Regions from separate parts of the Homo sapiens genome. Here region 2 is linked to region 1. A link means that fine-mapping ties the variant in region 1 to the expression of a gene that starts in the linked region. Tissue or cell type: whole blood. Region 1 holds a variant in brackets; the other region holds the start of a gene. All regions are shown on one strand. Distances are from middle to middle.

Region 1 (7,355 bases):
ATCATTATGCCTTACACAAAAACTCAATTGCTATGGCTTTTAATTTCAAATACAAGCAAACAAAATATTCACTTTTAACTGAAATTACGCATTTAAGCCAGACCTGTCAGTTAAGAAAATTAATGACCACCATAACATAGCATAATATATGCTAAGTACAGCTGTTTATACTCCCCTTCACAAATATAACATATAGTTGTTTGCACTCTCCTTATATATAAAAGATATCTGACATTAACTTGTGTGTTGAAACATCACCTGAGCAACAGATTACAGAGGGTTTTATGTTCATATCACCACAGCACTTCTGTTTTAGCAATTTTACAATTAAATTGCTAACAATTAAATTTCTCCAGATGATGAAATACATGTGTTTGTCTTTTATTTTATTTTTTTGAGACAGGGTCTCACTCTGTTGCCCAAGCTGGAGTGCAGTGGTGCCATCTCGGCTCACTGCAACCTTCGGCTCCTGGGTTCAAGCAATTCTCCTGCCTCAGCCTCCCCAGTAGCTGGGACTACAGGTGCACGCCACCTCACCTGGCTAATTCTATATTTTTTTTGGTAGAGACAAAGTTTCACCATGTTGGCCAGGATGGTCTCAAACTCCTGGGCCTCATGTGACCTGCCCTCCTCAGCCTCCCAAAAGTGCTGGGATTACAGGCCTGAGCCACCATGCCCAGCCAAAATACATTTTTACACCCATTCTATCTCAAAGAATAATTTAAAGGAGTAAATATTCAGCTCTATTTTCACCACAATGAAGTAATGCTTAAGCAATCATGTACATTATTTTTTCCTAATAATGTAACCCTCTAGTTTCATGCCCTATGTAACTGATCTGATCTAAAAGGATACTGTACACGTAGCAGCTCAGGGAAGTTGACACAACTGTTTTAAGTCGTAAGACCTAGTGTTTCAGCCTGTATGTGATTTTGGACAGTCATGTAACCCTCTCTGAGCCTCAGCTTCCTTAACTGTAAAATGGGTCCTACTTTCTTTTCAAGGGCATTGTGAAGATTAAGTATGTGAGTAGATGTAAAAATGCTTTGTAAATACGTACTACCCAAACACAAGGTATTGCACTGTATTCAAATGTAAATAAAATATCTATTTATTCCCACAGTCAGGAAAAATCCAGTTCAACTACTATGCTTTAAATCAAGTTTTCTTTTGAAAGCTACTAAGCCCTGTCTTAAATCTATCAAGAAACAATGAAATTTCACTTTAAGTTTTATGTGTAAGCACACTCAATATCCTTAGGAAAAATGCCTGTTACACAGATAAGAAGAACATACAGGCCAACCAACTTGGTTAAAAATGTAATGACTTGGTGGCCGGGCGCAGTGGCTCACGCCTGTAATCCCAGCACTTTGGGAGGCCGAGGAGGGCAGATCACGAGGTCAGGAGATCGAGACCATCCTGGCTAACACGGTGAAACCCTGTCTCTACTAAAAATACAAAAAGATTAGCTGGGTGTGGTGGCGGGCACCTATAGTCCCAGCTACTTGGGAAGCTGAGGCAGGAGAATGGCATGAACCCGGGAGGCGGAGGTTGTAGTGAGCTGAGATAGCGCCACTGCACTCCAGCCTGGACAACAGAGCGAGACTGTCTCAAAAAAAAATAAAAATAAAAAATAAAAAAAAAATATATATATATATAGTGACTTGATACTAGGACTAAATTCCAGAAATCCATGTCATTGCATGTTCCTTGATCTATGAAATTAAAATCACCATTAAGTTTAAGATTAGCCGGGTGTGGCAGTGTGCGCCTGTAGTCCCAGCTACTTGGGAGGCTGATGTGGGAGAATTGCGTGAACCTGGGAGGTGGAGCTTGCAGTGAGCCGAGATCACGCCATTGCACTCCAGCCTGGGTGACAGAGCAAGACTCCGTCTCCAAAAAAAAAAAAAAAAAAGATTAAAAGATTTTAAGCTTAAACATACAAAACAGTCAGTATTAAGACAATGTATTAGAAAGGACTGAAAGTTGTAATAACCCAAAATTTGTAAAAGGAAACATGAGAGTCAAGATAGTTGATCTTGCATTAATTACATTTAGCTTATAATTCAATTGACCTTTCTTAAAACGCAAAGAAACGGTCTATTACCACATGAAAGATATGTTTTAACACAGTTGGCAGTTGGTTCCTACTTGAGAGTTACTACACCCATAAAAGATTCATGAAGAGTATTATAGCCACCTCTTGAACTATTTCCAAACAGTTTAATATAAATTTGTTAACCAACAAAAGTGCACATATTAAGTAAATCAAAGTTCCTTTGCTTTTGGCTGGAACTGTAACAACTCAAAGTGGTGAGGAGAGACAACTTTATTCTGAGATTAGAGGTTGTTTTTTTTTTTGTTTTGTTTTGTTTTGTTTTTGAGACAAACTCTCACTCTGTCACCCAGGCTGGAGTATAATAGCAGTCTTGGCTCACTGCAACCGCCGCCTCCTGGATTCAAGCGATTCTCCTGTCTCAGCCTCCCAAGTAGCTGGGTTAACAGGTGTGCACCACCATGCCCAGCTAATTTTGTATTTTAAGTAGAGGCAGTGTTTCGCCATCTTGGCCAGGCTGACTTCGAACGCCTGGGCTCAGGTGATCTGCCCGCCTCAGCCTCCCAAAGTGCTGGGATTACAGGCGTGAGCCACCACCCCCAGCCCTGATCAGAAGTTCTAATTGGCTCTTAATCAAAAATTTATTTCTGAGAACCATCTTACAACAAAGGATCCCAGACATTTAAAATATGGGGGTGGGGTGGGGAGGAACACTGGTTTAAAACTCACCAGTATGTTCTTTAGACACTAGAATCACCACAGCCAAAAGCAGGGAGTATGTTTTGTTTTTAAATGAAAAATACCCTCAGTGCAGCCCACTTTCCGTTCTTGGCCCTTTAGATCCACTTTCCGTTCTTGGCCCTTTAGATACCCCTCGCAAAAAGTGCTAAACATATTTACAGCAATGTGCATAAGTGAGCTCTGAGTTAATTTCAGATCTAGACAAAAAATCTGAGGCTAAGCTTTATGTCACAACAAGTTTTACAAGTCCCTCCACATATCAATAACATAGGCATTCACAGAACCAAACAACAGTAAGGAAAGGCTATTACAACTGGAATACCCCTGGGGGTTCAGTTCCATTAGCAGTAGCAAAGGAAAACGATCAGATAAACCTACAAAAACAGCAGAAGCATTATGACCAAACCTCAGGTCATTAAATCACGAAAGTACAGCCTTACAATAGGTTTCACTCCATTAGCTCTATCCTGCCAATATGCCTGAAGATGTCCTATTGGTGATCACAGAAGAGGCGAAAACATACGATTTAACTTACTTAACTTTTTAACAGTTTTTTCATTTCAATAAATTTATTTTGATTGGTTGAATTGTTTAAGAGGAAGAGAAGAATATGTTCATGTTTTTCAACCTGTGGGTGAAAAAGAAACCATATGATTTAATTTCTAAAAACGTTAGGAGTATAATTTCACTTAAAGGAAATTTTACCTACTTGTTTCTGTAACTCTGTGCAGCAGCAATTCATCCTATACATCTTTTCTAAAAGCACAAGAAAAATAAGCCATTAGATAACACATAATGTAAAGAAGAAAAACTTGGGAGTGTAAACATATACAGATAGCTCTCCCCCTTGCGCATGGGTTCCGACTACAAAGAC[C/G]TGGATGGATCCATTTGGGCTTTGAGATTATCTACTACCATGGTCTGGATTTGACCACATTAACAACCCATGTCTCCAAGGTTTTGGTTGTCAATCATCTCTCTTTTTGATTGAGGCCAGGTCTGTCAAATATACATCTTATGAAGTACCAGGAAGATGGAATCTCAAAAATATGACTTCTCAGTTTGATCAGGATAGAAAGTAAATTGGAAATAAGAAGCACGCAGAATGCCTGGCATTTTCAAAGCTCTTGGTGTCAATTCCCACAGCAGTGCTGACAAGTCTGATCTAAGGACTATCTGGACTCGGAGGACTGCCTCCATCAAGGCGGCCCTCCCAGGCAGCCACAGGAATCAGAACCCTGCCACTGGATTTGTGGAGGAGGAGGAGAGAGTATGGCATGGGAAGTGAGAAAAGGTCAAGTCAACTAAATTGATTATCTGTTATTCCTCACACTTAACATCTGTTATTAATAACACTTGAAAAGAATACCTGTATTTAAAGCACTCTGCCTTTGAGGTGTGATGTTTTTTGCCAGACCAAATGTCACTAGCTTATCAGCTACATCGACAGTCCCATTCTCAGAACATTTCTCAACTGACACTGTATGGACATTCTTTGTAATTCCTTTCACAGAAAGCATTACATTCTGATTCAACATGAAATTTTTTAATAGCATTATTATTAATTGAGAAGAGCTTCCATTCAATTCCATTAATCCTGGAAAAAATAGATATTATAGTCTTTTAGTCCCTTTTAAAAAGACAGAATTTAGATAAATTATCTAAGAATAATAAGCAAAAGGCTTACTGGACTTCAGCTGGATTTAGGTGTGTTCTGATGTACTACTGCTGTTGCATTACAAAAGACAAATTTATTCAATACATATTGATTGATCACCTAACAAGGCATCAAGCACTAATCTTGGACTAGAGGGCACGAAACAGACACATCTGTCCTTCATATATTCCAACAGGAGAAACAAAGATAATTTTCCAACTCTGAGTCAAAACCTAAGAGGACCATGAAGCAATCGGTATGGTATTATCTGCAAGTCCTCTGCATAAGGACATCAGGAGCGACAGTAAAAAGCTACTTTAAGTATTTTTGTTCACTTTGTTCAAATTCCAACTAAGGAGTTGAATATATGCAGATTTATCTTTCATAAGGTAGCCAAAAATGGTGTCATGTGAATGCCTTTAGTCCCTAAAGAGAGATGTGACGAAGCAGAAAGACCCCAAATGAGAGGTCAGACACCCTGGTTCACAGACACCAGACACCCTGTTTCACATCCTGGCCTTGCCACTTACTAGCTTAGCAACCAGGGGCAAAACCGAATCTCTGAACCCTGGCCCTCTGAAACTAATCTACAAAACAAAGACTGACTGAACACAGTTTTTGTGAGAATTCGATAAAGAATAAAGAATATGAAACTTATTTGAAAACTCTTAATATTTAAAAACATTAAGGCAGTTACTGGAAATACCCATTTGATTCCGACTTAGAGCTATGAAACATAAAGAGGAAAAAAAAAATACCCAGAAACCTAAATTGGAAAGTGACTTAGCTGTCTACCTTCAAGTGAACATCTAATAATTTGGAAAGGAAGCGCCAGGTGGCTAGAGGTGATTGGTTGCACTCTGCAAAGAGGCAGGGTTTCAATGTTTCCATAGTCTGCATAGAGCACTTCCACATCAGTGTCTGATGTCCCCAGAACAACTGCACGATACCAAAAATCATCACCTGAAAACAGAATGAAATCTCAGGTAAGAACTTACAGTCAGTGATTCCTCCTACTTTAAGATGGCTATTCATAGTTATATTTACATCACTTAAAAATCCATGCCAAAATTTCTGGTTACAGTTCAAATTAAATACAAGCATTTACCTCTACATTCCTATGAAAAATGTAATAGAATTTTTTTTTTTTTTTTTGAGACAGGGTCTGGCTCTGCAGCCCAGGCTGGAGTGCAGTGGCACAATCTTGGCTCGCTGCAACCTCCACCTCCCAGACTCAAGTGATCCTCTCACCTCAGCTTCTTGAGTAGCTGGGAATACAGGTATACACCACCATGCCCAGCTAACTTTTTATTCTTGGTAGAGATAGTCTTGCCATGCTGCCAAGGCTGGTCTTGAACTCCTGAATTCAAGCTATCCTACTGCCTCAGCCTCCGAAAGTGATGGGATTACAGGCGTGAGCCACTGTACCCGGCCAGATTTTTTTTTTTTTTTTAAATGCGTAGAATAGAGTAGAGAACAAGAGAAAAGACAACAGAATATTGGAAGCTGGAAAGCAGATGCCTGAATGAAAATGATTTAGTAGAGCCATGGTAGCTCAACCAAAGTTGGCAGTGGGGAAGCCAAGAAGCATCCCAGCTTGCATCACAAATCCCCAACCCCTGAAGTCTCAACGATTGGTGCTGCTCATTCAAAAGCAGGAGTTAAGATGGAGTTGGAAATGAAGATTGGCCAAGGAAGCAGAGTTACTTGCAAAGACATCTGAATAGGCTTTGGTTCATACACTCATTTGCATATAACACCTATTTTTAAAGTTGCTAAAGAGAATGGTGAGCTTTGTGTTCCCATGTTTTAATAATGCTGCTACTTGAGGGCAGAAGACTGGAGGTTTCCTCTCCTGAGAGAATGAACCACAGAGGGCATGGACTGGAGAACGTGAGGCAGAGTAGACAAGGGAGAGTTTAACACTGGCAGGCAAGCTGTGCACTCCAGGCAGGAGGCCACCAGTCCATGTGACAGCCCATCAAGATGGCGACACTGGGAGTCTGCAGTGAGATGGCAGAGCCAGATCACCCACAGTGAAGGCCATCAGTGGAAAAGCCCCTGCCCACTCTCAAAGCAACTTCCCAGTAACTTCTCAGTGCCCCATCTTAAATACAGGAACAGCATAGGATCACCAGAGATTTGCAGAAAGCCTCTAACATCACAGAGGAGACCAAAACAAAACAGGACCTTAGGGAAACCAAGGCAGAAAACCAAGGAGGAATATGACAATGAACATTAGAAGACTGACAGTAATATCCTTGGAGAAATGACATTCCACTCTTGAAAGAACAGGGTAGTATTAAAACACATAAACATGAAAAACAAAACAAAAAAAGCTATTGAAATTAAAAATGTGATAGAAATGAAAACCTAAATTTAAAAAGTTGGAAGGTGAAATTGAGGAAATCTCTTTAAGAACAAAAAAGATGAAAGAGAGAAGAGGACATTTAGCAGAGTTCAAATTCAGCATTAGAAGACTTGAAGCTCCTAACAGAACAGAAAACAAAAGCAACTAAAAGCATTAATTCAGGAAAGTTTCTCAAACTGAAGCTCATGAATTTCTAGATGTAAGGGGCCCACCCACTGAGTGCCCAGCAAAACGGTAGAAAAAGAAACACCATACTAAGGTCACATCATAAATTTCAAAACAGGTGAGAATACTAACAGTTCCAGAAAGGCGGAAAAAACATACAAAGTTTGTGGAATCCGGAATAACATTAATCTTTTGACCAGAAACACCAATAGCTAAAACACAATAAAAGCAGTGCCTCAAAATTTTAAGTGAAAAACCATTTCCAATCTAGAATTCTGCATCCAGGCAACCTATCAATTAACTATTAGGCTGAAGGCTTTTTCAAACATGGGAGATAACAGAAAATTTGTCTTACATGCACCTTTTCT
Region 2 (7,355 bases), 54 kb after region 1:
CCAGGAGGCGGAGGTTTCACCGAGCCAAGATCACTGCCACTGCACTCCAGCCTGGGCAACAGAGCAAGACTGTCTCAAAAAAAAAAAAAAAAAGAAAAAGAAAGAAAGAAAAGAAGGTGCTGTACAGAGTTCTGACAGAAGCCACATCGTTTCCCCTATTATTAGCATGGTCTGTTAGCATGATACATTTGTTATAATTAAGGAACCAAGGAACCAACATTGATACAGTATTAACTAAAGCCCATCTTTTTGATTTCCTTCGTTTTTACCTACTGTCCCTTTTCTGATGCAAGATCTCATCAGGATATCATATTACATTTAGTTTTCATGGATCCTTAGGCTCTTCTTGGCCATGGGACTTCCTTAGACTTTGTTTTGATGACCTTGATGTCAAGTTTCCAGGAGTACTCTCAGGCCTTTTGTAGGATGCCCTACTTTTGGAATTTGTCTGATGTTTTTCTGCTGGTAGGAAAGGAGTTACGGGTTATTGGAAGGAAGACCACAGAGGTAAAAATGCCATTTTTATTGCATCATATCAAGCATACATCCTATGAATATGATTATGACAATTGATGTAGGATTTGGTCATCTGGCTGTGGTAGTGTTTGTTGGGTCTTTCTACTATATTCTTTTTTTTCCCTTCCCTTTTCATACTATACACTTTGGAAGGAAGCTATTATTTGAAGCCCACATTTAAGGAGTAGGGAGTTATGTTGTCCCTCTTTGAGGATGCAGTATCTGCAGAAATTATTTGAAATTCTTCTGCATGGGAGATTTGTCTCTTCTCCATTTACTAATTTAATAACGGACTCGGATATTTATTTTATACTTTTTTTTTCTTATTTTATACTTTTCTAATCCAAAACTACTGTATTTCCTTGCTCAGATTTTTCCAGCTTTGGCCACAGGAAGCTCTTTCAGTTGGTTTCTGTTCCTTCACATACTATCATCAGGTGGTATTTTGTTTGTTAAGCACTTTATTACTTTCTGGGATATTGTATCTTTTCATCCAAAAATATTGTAAGTAGGTGTCTTTAAGAGATTACCACTTTTTAAGTAATATCACCAAAACATATCCCAACTTTAAAAACAATAATTTCTCTTGCTTTCCTTTCTTTTCTCCTTTTTCTCCTTTCCTCTCCTTTCCTTTCTTTCTGAAAGGGTCTTGCTCTGCCGCCCAGACTAGAGTGCAGTGGCACAGTCATAGTTCACTGCAGTCCTGAACTGCTGGACTCAAGCCATCACCCTGCCTCAGTAGCTGGGATTACAAGTGTGAGCCATAGTGCCTGGCCATAATTTCTTAATATCATAAAATTAATACTAAACATTTCCAGATACCTCAAATGTTATTTTTTAATTTTCTTTTTAGAGATGGGATCCCACTGTGTTGTCCAGGCTGGTCTCAAACTCCTGAGCTCAAGCAGCCCACCTTGGCCTCCCAAAGGGCTGGGATTACAGGTGTGAGCCACCACACCCAGCCATTCAGATGTTATCTTAAATCGTTGATATGTTCAAATCAGTATCAAAACATCCTGTATTTGCACTCAGTGATATATTTTAAAAAGGGGTTTCTCTTTAAATCCTGTACTTCTCTTGCAATTTATTTATTACAGTAACTGCAGGGTTTTTTTTTTTTTCCATTCAATTTTGTTGATTGCATCCCCCGGCAGGAATACTTCACAGGTGGTGTTGTGCTTCTCTATTGTAGCATTTCAGAAAATACATAGTATGTAGTTGTTTCACTTTGGAGGATATTAAGATTGATCTAGTAGGTTCAAGTGGTGCCAGCCCCATCCATCCATTACAATACGAAGCTTCCTATCAGTTTTTCATCTAATGGTTCTAGATTCACAGATGACCATTACCTAGATCCATTATTTCATCAGGGTTTGCAAAATGGTGATCATCTATCTTTCTTTCTGCAATTATTACATGGAGTTCTACAGAGAAGAGCTTCCCCACATTGACTATTTGATTGACATTCAGTTTGCAACAGGAAAGGTAGGATGAATGCTTGATTCTTTATCAGTTCTCAGATTGTAATGACTTGTTGGCATCTTTCCAAGAGGGTCAATGACATTAAAAAAAATAAATGCACTCACTGATTTTTTTACATAGTGCGTCTCAACCAGTTGCTGTTATTATTTTTGAATGCTAAATTTGTCCTGTTTGAGAAGTTGGGGCATCTTTGAACTGCCTTCTGAGTCTTTTGGGTACAGTTCATGTTATCTTTGCTTTTCTTCCTTGCTTTCTGCTACAAGCAATATGTCCTAGGCTATCTTGCATATTTCTTGCCCCTACTGGGAATCAGCACTTAACCTCCAAGAGAAGCCAAGGTAACTTTTTTTGGGCAATGCTCTTTAGAGATCACAATCTGGGGAATAGGAGTGTGCAATGGGTTGGTCACTGTTCTAAGAGTTTTCAGTGGACACACCTTTTTTTTCACGAAAAAAATGTACCATGAGTTAATTCTGATATTTGTAAATTCAAATATAGGATTGCAGAATTTTAATATAATGTCTTTGGTTTATATTTGTATTTCTTTTCTCTTATGGTGAAAAACTTGGTTCACAAAGATATATTTATATACTTTATACTAATTATAAATTCAGAAATATTCAGAAATAGTAATACCTATGTTATTACTGACGAGTACCGAAAACAGCTTAAGGTTTCTTCAGTTTTTTCCCCTTGGATTAATGTCTCCCTAGGAAGGCTTGGTCGATTTATTGTTTTAAAGTCAAATCATTTATTTTCTATGACAAGACACTTTAACTGCAAAATGTGCTTCAGTGTAGTACCTTCATTTAAGGAGGAGTGAGGTGCCATTACACCTCCGTGTGTGTGTTTTGCCAACAGTATCGAAGACGCTTAACAGAACAGTAGTAAGTTTTGCTTTACAAATTCTTACATTGCAGAATCGTCTGCATCAGCTATTTTCATTCATGAGATATGTGTAAGACCTAAACCAAAGAACATCGTTTCCCCGGACTGAGGAGGTTTGCGAAACCTCCAGAGACTGAACTGCTGACCTTCCTTCTCTGGGCCGGGCGAGGCAACTGTACCCAATACACTTTTTGTTGCCATGCTGCGTGCCAGGTTACTCAGCCGGGAGAGGACACTTCCTACCATCAATGCGCTCAGCTTGAAGCCAGAGACGAAGGCACCGACAGTTTATTATTAAACAATGGCAGCAGCGCCACGCTGAAGACACGAACGCGCTGTTATGGAACCCCCAGAGGTCTCCCCCATCGTAGCCTGCTCCAGCCGACTCCGCCCACGTAAGGTGCAAGGTTTCCGCATGAGAGCCGGGAAGCCACAATTTCAAATTCTCTTTTATTGCTTTATGTCCCTGACTCATGCAGGCCAAAGGGTGAGGAGGAGTAATAGCCAACAAGAGCGTCCTGCAGAAAGAAACAGGCTGCGTGGGTCCGGAGGAGCTTGAAAGGAAGAACCCGACCAAAGGGCAGGAGACCCGGCTCTCCAGGTCGCGGAGGCGTGGGTGCCCAGCCAGGCGGAGTGCGGGGCGGGGCCTCTCGGGCCGCAAGGTGGGGCCTCCTGGGCCGGGAGGTGGGAGGTGAGCTCCGCCAGCCCAGCCCACTGCAGACAGGTTACCCAGGACCTCAAGGTGTGCTGCGTCACCCCGCCCGCGCTGCGCTGATTGGTTCCTCCAGGGAGCCCCCGCCCCCTCAGCTGTAACCGGGCCGGCTTCAGTGTCGCCGCCATCTTTGTTGATGTGTCAGCTCCGCAGGGGTTTGGGGAAACGGCCGCTGAGTGAGGCGTCGGCTGTGTTTCTCACCGCGGTCTTTTCCTCCCACTCTTGGCTGGTTGGACCCCGCTATGGAAAAGTTGGCCCCTGAGCCAGAGCTCCAGCAGCCTTGTTAGGGCGTGGCCTGAGGCTTGGATAAGTGGGGTAAGTGTCTGAGGGGTACTCGGGGCACACCGGTGAGTCGCGGTGGCGGTGCGGTGGGGCTGCCAGCCTTCCGCTCCTTCCTGCACGTTCCGTGGCGGGGGCGAGGGCGAGTGCGAGGTGGAGGTCGAGGTCGAGCGGGCTCCCCGCCTGGCTCCTTTGAGGGCGCGGAGGAAGGGGAGGGCTGGGGAACGGGTTTCAAGCCCTTTCCTCTCCCTGCCTTCCTCCTTCGGTTCCGGGACCTTGGAGGTGGCAAAGAGGGGTCAGCGGGGGTCGTGGGGGCTGTGCCTCGAGAGCGTCTGAATTCGAGCCCATTGCCTGGGCTGCGTGTGAACTGCAGCCAAGCCCTACCTGCTCGAGAATCTTTCCTAGACTCAATCGCCTATTTCGTTTTTCGTCTCAAGTTGACTGTATGTGGGTGTTTTATATTTACTGTTGTGAAGACTTGTTACCCTCTTCCAAACACTTCCATTACTGTGATTCTAAGTTCCTTAGAAGTGATTCTTTGGAGTGGTGGATACTGTTCTTTATGTTGTCTTTCAAGGACGTCAAGGCATTTCATAAACCTTGGTTGGTAAGGAAGGGGTTTCAGATTTATGTCTCCATCAGTAATGAAAAATGGCAAAAACAAAACAAAAACCCTTCTACGTGTCCCTAAGTAGCAATCTTGGGAAACAGTGCAGGTGTGAGTATTGCTTAGCTGTTAACAGTTTAACAACTTCACCTAATATTCCCATCTTGATTTTGTTTAGAGGAAAAAGTCCTGGATTTCGAGTCAGAACATCTGGATTAGAATCCTACTTCTTTCACTTGATAATCTTGTTACCTGTGGAAATCAGAAGAGAGAATATAGTAAAAATACGCAGTACAGTCCCAGGTACTTGGCCGTTTTCTCTGCATGTGTGTCATGTTCCTTTGATGCCCAGCTTTTTTTTCTTCCAAAACGATAGGCCGGGTGTTGTCTTCTAAGGTGTTCAGTAAATCAGGGTTTCAAGAGGTGTGCTGGTAGTCATTCAGAAGAAATTAATCTGCTATTATCTATTTAGGTATGCTAGTTGTGGGTGTGGCTTTCCCAACTATCAAGTACACCTTAATATTTACCGAGTGTTCATCTCGTGGGAAGGATTCAGGTTCAAGAGAGATTGATAGTGAAACTGAACTATCTCTGTGTGTAATGTACACTGTTCCCTGTGTAACTTCAATTCTTTATCCAACATTACACAAATAAAAAACAGTAATGATTGGCTAGGTTCATTTTTCTCTTTTATTTCTGGTCTTTTCATGTTATTTTTAATGCAGTGAAGATATTAGATCACGAATCTTGCAGTATTAAGAATTAAAACTTTTTACAGCATAATAGGCAAACGTATGATTACTGAAGATTCTCCCTGGAAATGCATGGATTGTGTTTGTTTTTTAAAGGCCCTGTTAAATTCAGAATAACTGCATATAAACTTAAGGTTTCTTTAAACAGTGGAGATTCCATAGTGTGTCATTGGCTTTTGAGTCCTATTTATTGCTAACGGAAAGGGTTGGCTGGTGTGTATCACAGTGACCACTCTAACCTTTTAGTTCTTTCACCCATAAAGTAGAGTTGTCCTTTAATGCTATGCAGTGACAGCATAGCTAATGATTGCTTAGTATGTTCAGTTTAGAAACATCTATTTGCAGCTTTATGCTGACATCACAGAGTGAAGATAAAAGCATTGCAGTATACTGACTCCAGGAAGAGACAGTAGGTTGAAGCACAAAGCAGCTTTATTTGGAGATTTAGAAAATAATCTTTCCCTTTGAAGAAGGACTGGTAATCTGCACTAGTTTCTCAAATTCATGCAACAGTTTCGTGTTAAAGTAAGAATCCTTACCCTGAAATTTTTTTTCTTTTAGTAAAACTTAGGTTTTTCTTTTATCTCTACCTTAAAATAACTAAAGCTGGTTTTTCAATTTCTCATAAACATATCACTGAGTTTACAGTATTGCAAATGTTATACTTAGTATTCATTTTAGGGGCAGCAGTGAGATCATAGATAATTTAATCTATTGTTTCAAACTGCTTTGAACTTTCTTAGCTACTGAGATTTAAAAAATGTATTTGGGCTAAAAAGTAAGAAAAAGGAAAAATACTGAGATGAAGGGACAGTAGACACAAAGTGGAAATCAGCACCAGCATAGTTTTGATTGGATTGTGAGTGTATTTCTTATTAACATTTGTCTATCATTAAGACACTTGAACTGATAATTGTGGGATTATGTAGACTATGTAATGTCTACCGCACTTACTACATAATCCCACGGTAGACTATCAGTTCATGTTTTTAATAAAGTAGAGCATACCAAATTAACCAACTCTGGCCAAAGGTGTCTTCAAAATTTAAACATTAACCCAAACTTTTTAATGTAATGCAGGCTTATAACTTGAAAAAAAATTTTTTTTAAAGATACTAGGCTTCATTTTGTTTAGTTTTTTGAGACAAGATCTCAATCTGTCACCCAGGCTGGAGTATAGTGGTATGATCATAATTCACTGTAGCCTTGAACTCCTGGTCTCAAGCAATCCTCCTGCCTTAGCCTCCTGAGTAGCTAGGACAACAGGCACAGGCCACCATACTAATCTTTTTAATTAAAAATTATATATTATTATTTTTTATAGACCAGGTCTTGCTATGTTTCCCAGGCTGTTCTCTTAATTCCTGGCCTCATTTGATCCTCCCATCTAGGCCTCCCAAAGTGCTGGGATTACAGGTGTGAGCCACCTGTAAAGGAAGGCCTGAGAGCCTTCCTTTTTGAAAAAGGAACTATAGGTCAGATTTTTTTTTACCTACTTTATTCCTTTTCAGATTTGGAGGAAAATTAGCTGATAATACTTTTCATGTTTTCTTAGACTCATTAAAGTGCAAGTGCAATCTTCAAATTAGATTTCTGTATTAGTAGGAAGTCATTTCTGATAACTTTCTGCTTTAGTATTTTAAAGTATTTATAGGAGACATGTAAAATTACCGAGCTGATATGACATATATGGTGTAACTTGATAAGGTGAACTATGATGTGGCCACTGACCCTCTTTTTCATGGAATTTTGATGGACCATAATTTCTCTTTGTCCTGTTATCCTATCACAGGATTTGGTACTATTTGGGAGTTGGTGGAGGGTGGGGGGGTCTTGCCGCATCTATTGCTCAAGTCTTTTTTTTTAAACATCTTTGTGTGTGTGTGTGTGATATAATGCACATATCATAAAGTTCTTGCCCTGAGTCTGGATTGTAAAGCTAAACATACCCCCACAGGGATAAATAACCTTGGTCTCATAAAACAAACTTTTCAAACTGGTGAACTAAAGGAAACTTTTTTATTCTAATGCTGTTTCACTTAAACTCAGTATATTACAGTTAAATTTGTGCCAACCATGGTGGCTCACATCTGTAATCACAGCACTTTTGGGGGGTTGA

The links. PIP is the estimated chance that this variant, and not a neighbour inherited with it, causes the effect.
Region 2: CCDC186 starts here. The variant in region 1 is fine-mapped to the expression of CCDC186 in whole blood (INTERVAL, PIP 0.95).

What each region holds. Positions count from the first base shown.
Region 1 is chr10:114,224,108-114,231,462 of GRCh38, reverse strand. It overlaps TDRD1 (tudor domain containing 1), which reads right to left. Exons shown (of 25, transcript NM_001395205.1): 22 at 5,247-5,414; 23 at 4,164-4,391; 24 at 3,507-3,553; 25 at 1-3,425. The coding sequence ends at 3,333. Among named protein-coding and RNA genes, the nearest start is that of VWA2, 11 kb to the left of the region's middle. The variant C/G (reference allele first, on the strand shown) is at 3,672.
Region 2 is chr10:114,170,573-114,177,927 of GRCh38, reverse strand. It overlaps CCDC186 (coiled-coil domain containing 186), which reads left to right and starts at 3,725. Exons shown (of 16, transcript NM_018017.4): 1 at 3,725-3,913. It overlaps MIR2110 (microRNA 2110), which reads left to right and starts at 3,749; the gene lies at 3,749-3,823. It also overlaps a transcript of TDRD1 not described here. RefSeq lists a silencer at 3,390-3,659 and enhancers at 3,720-3,919, 3,515-4,043.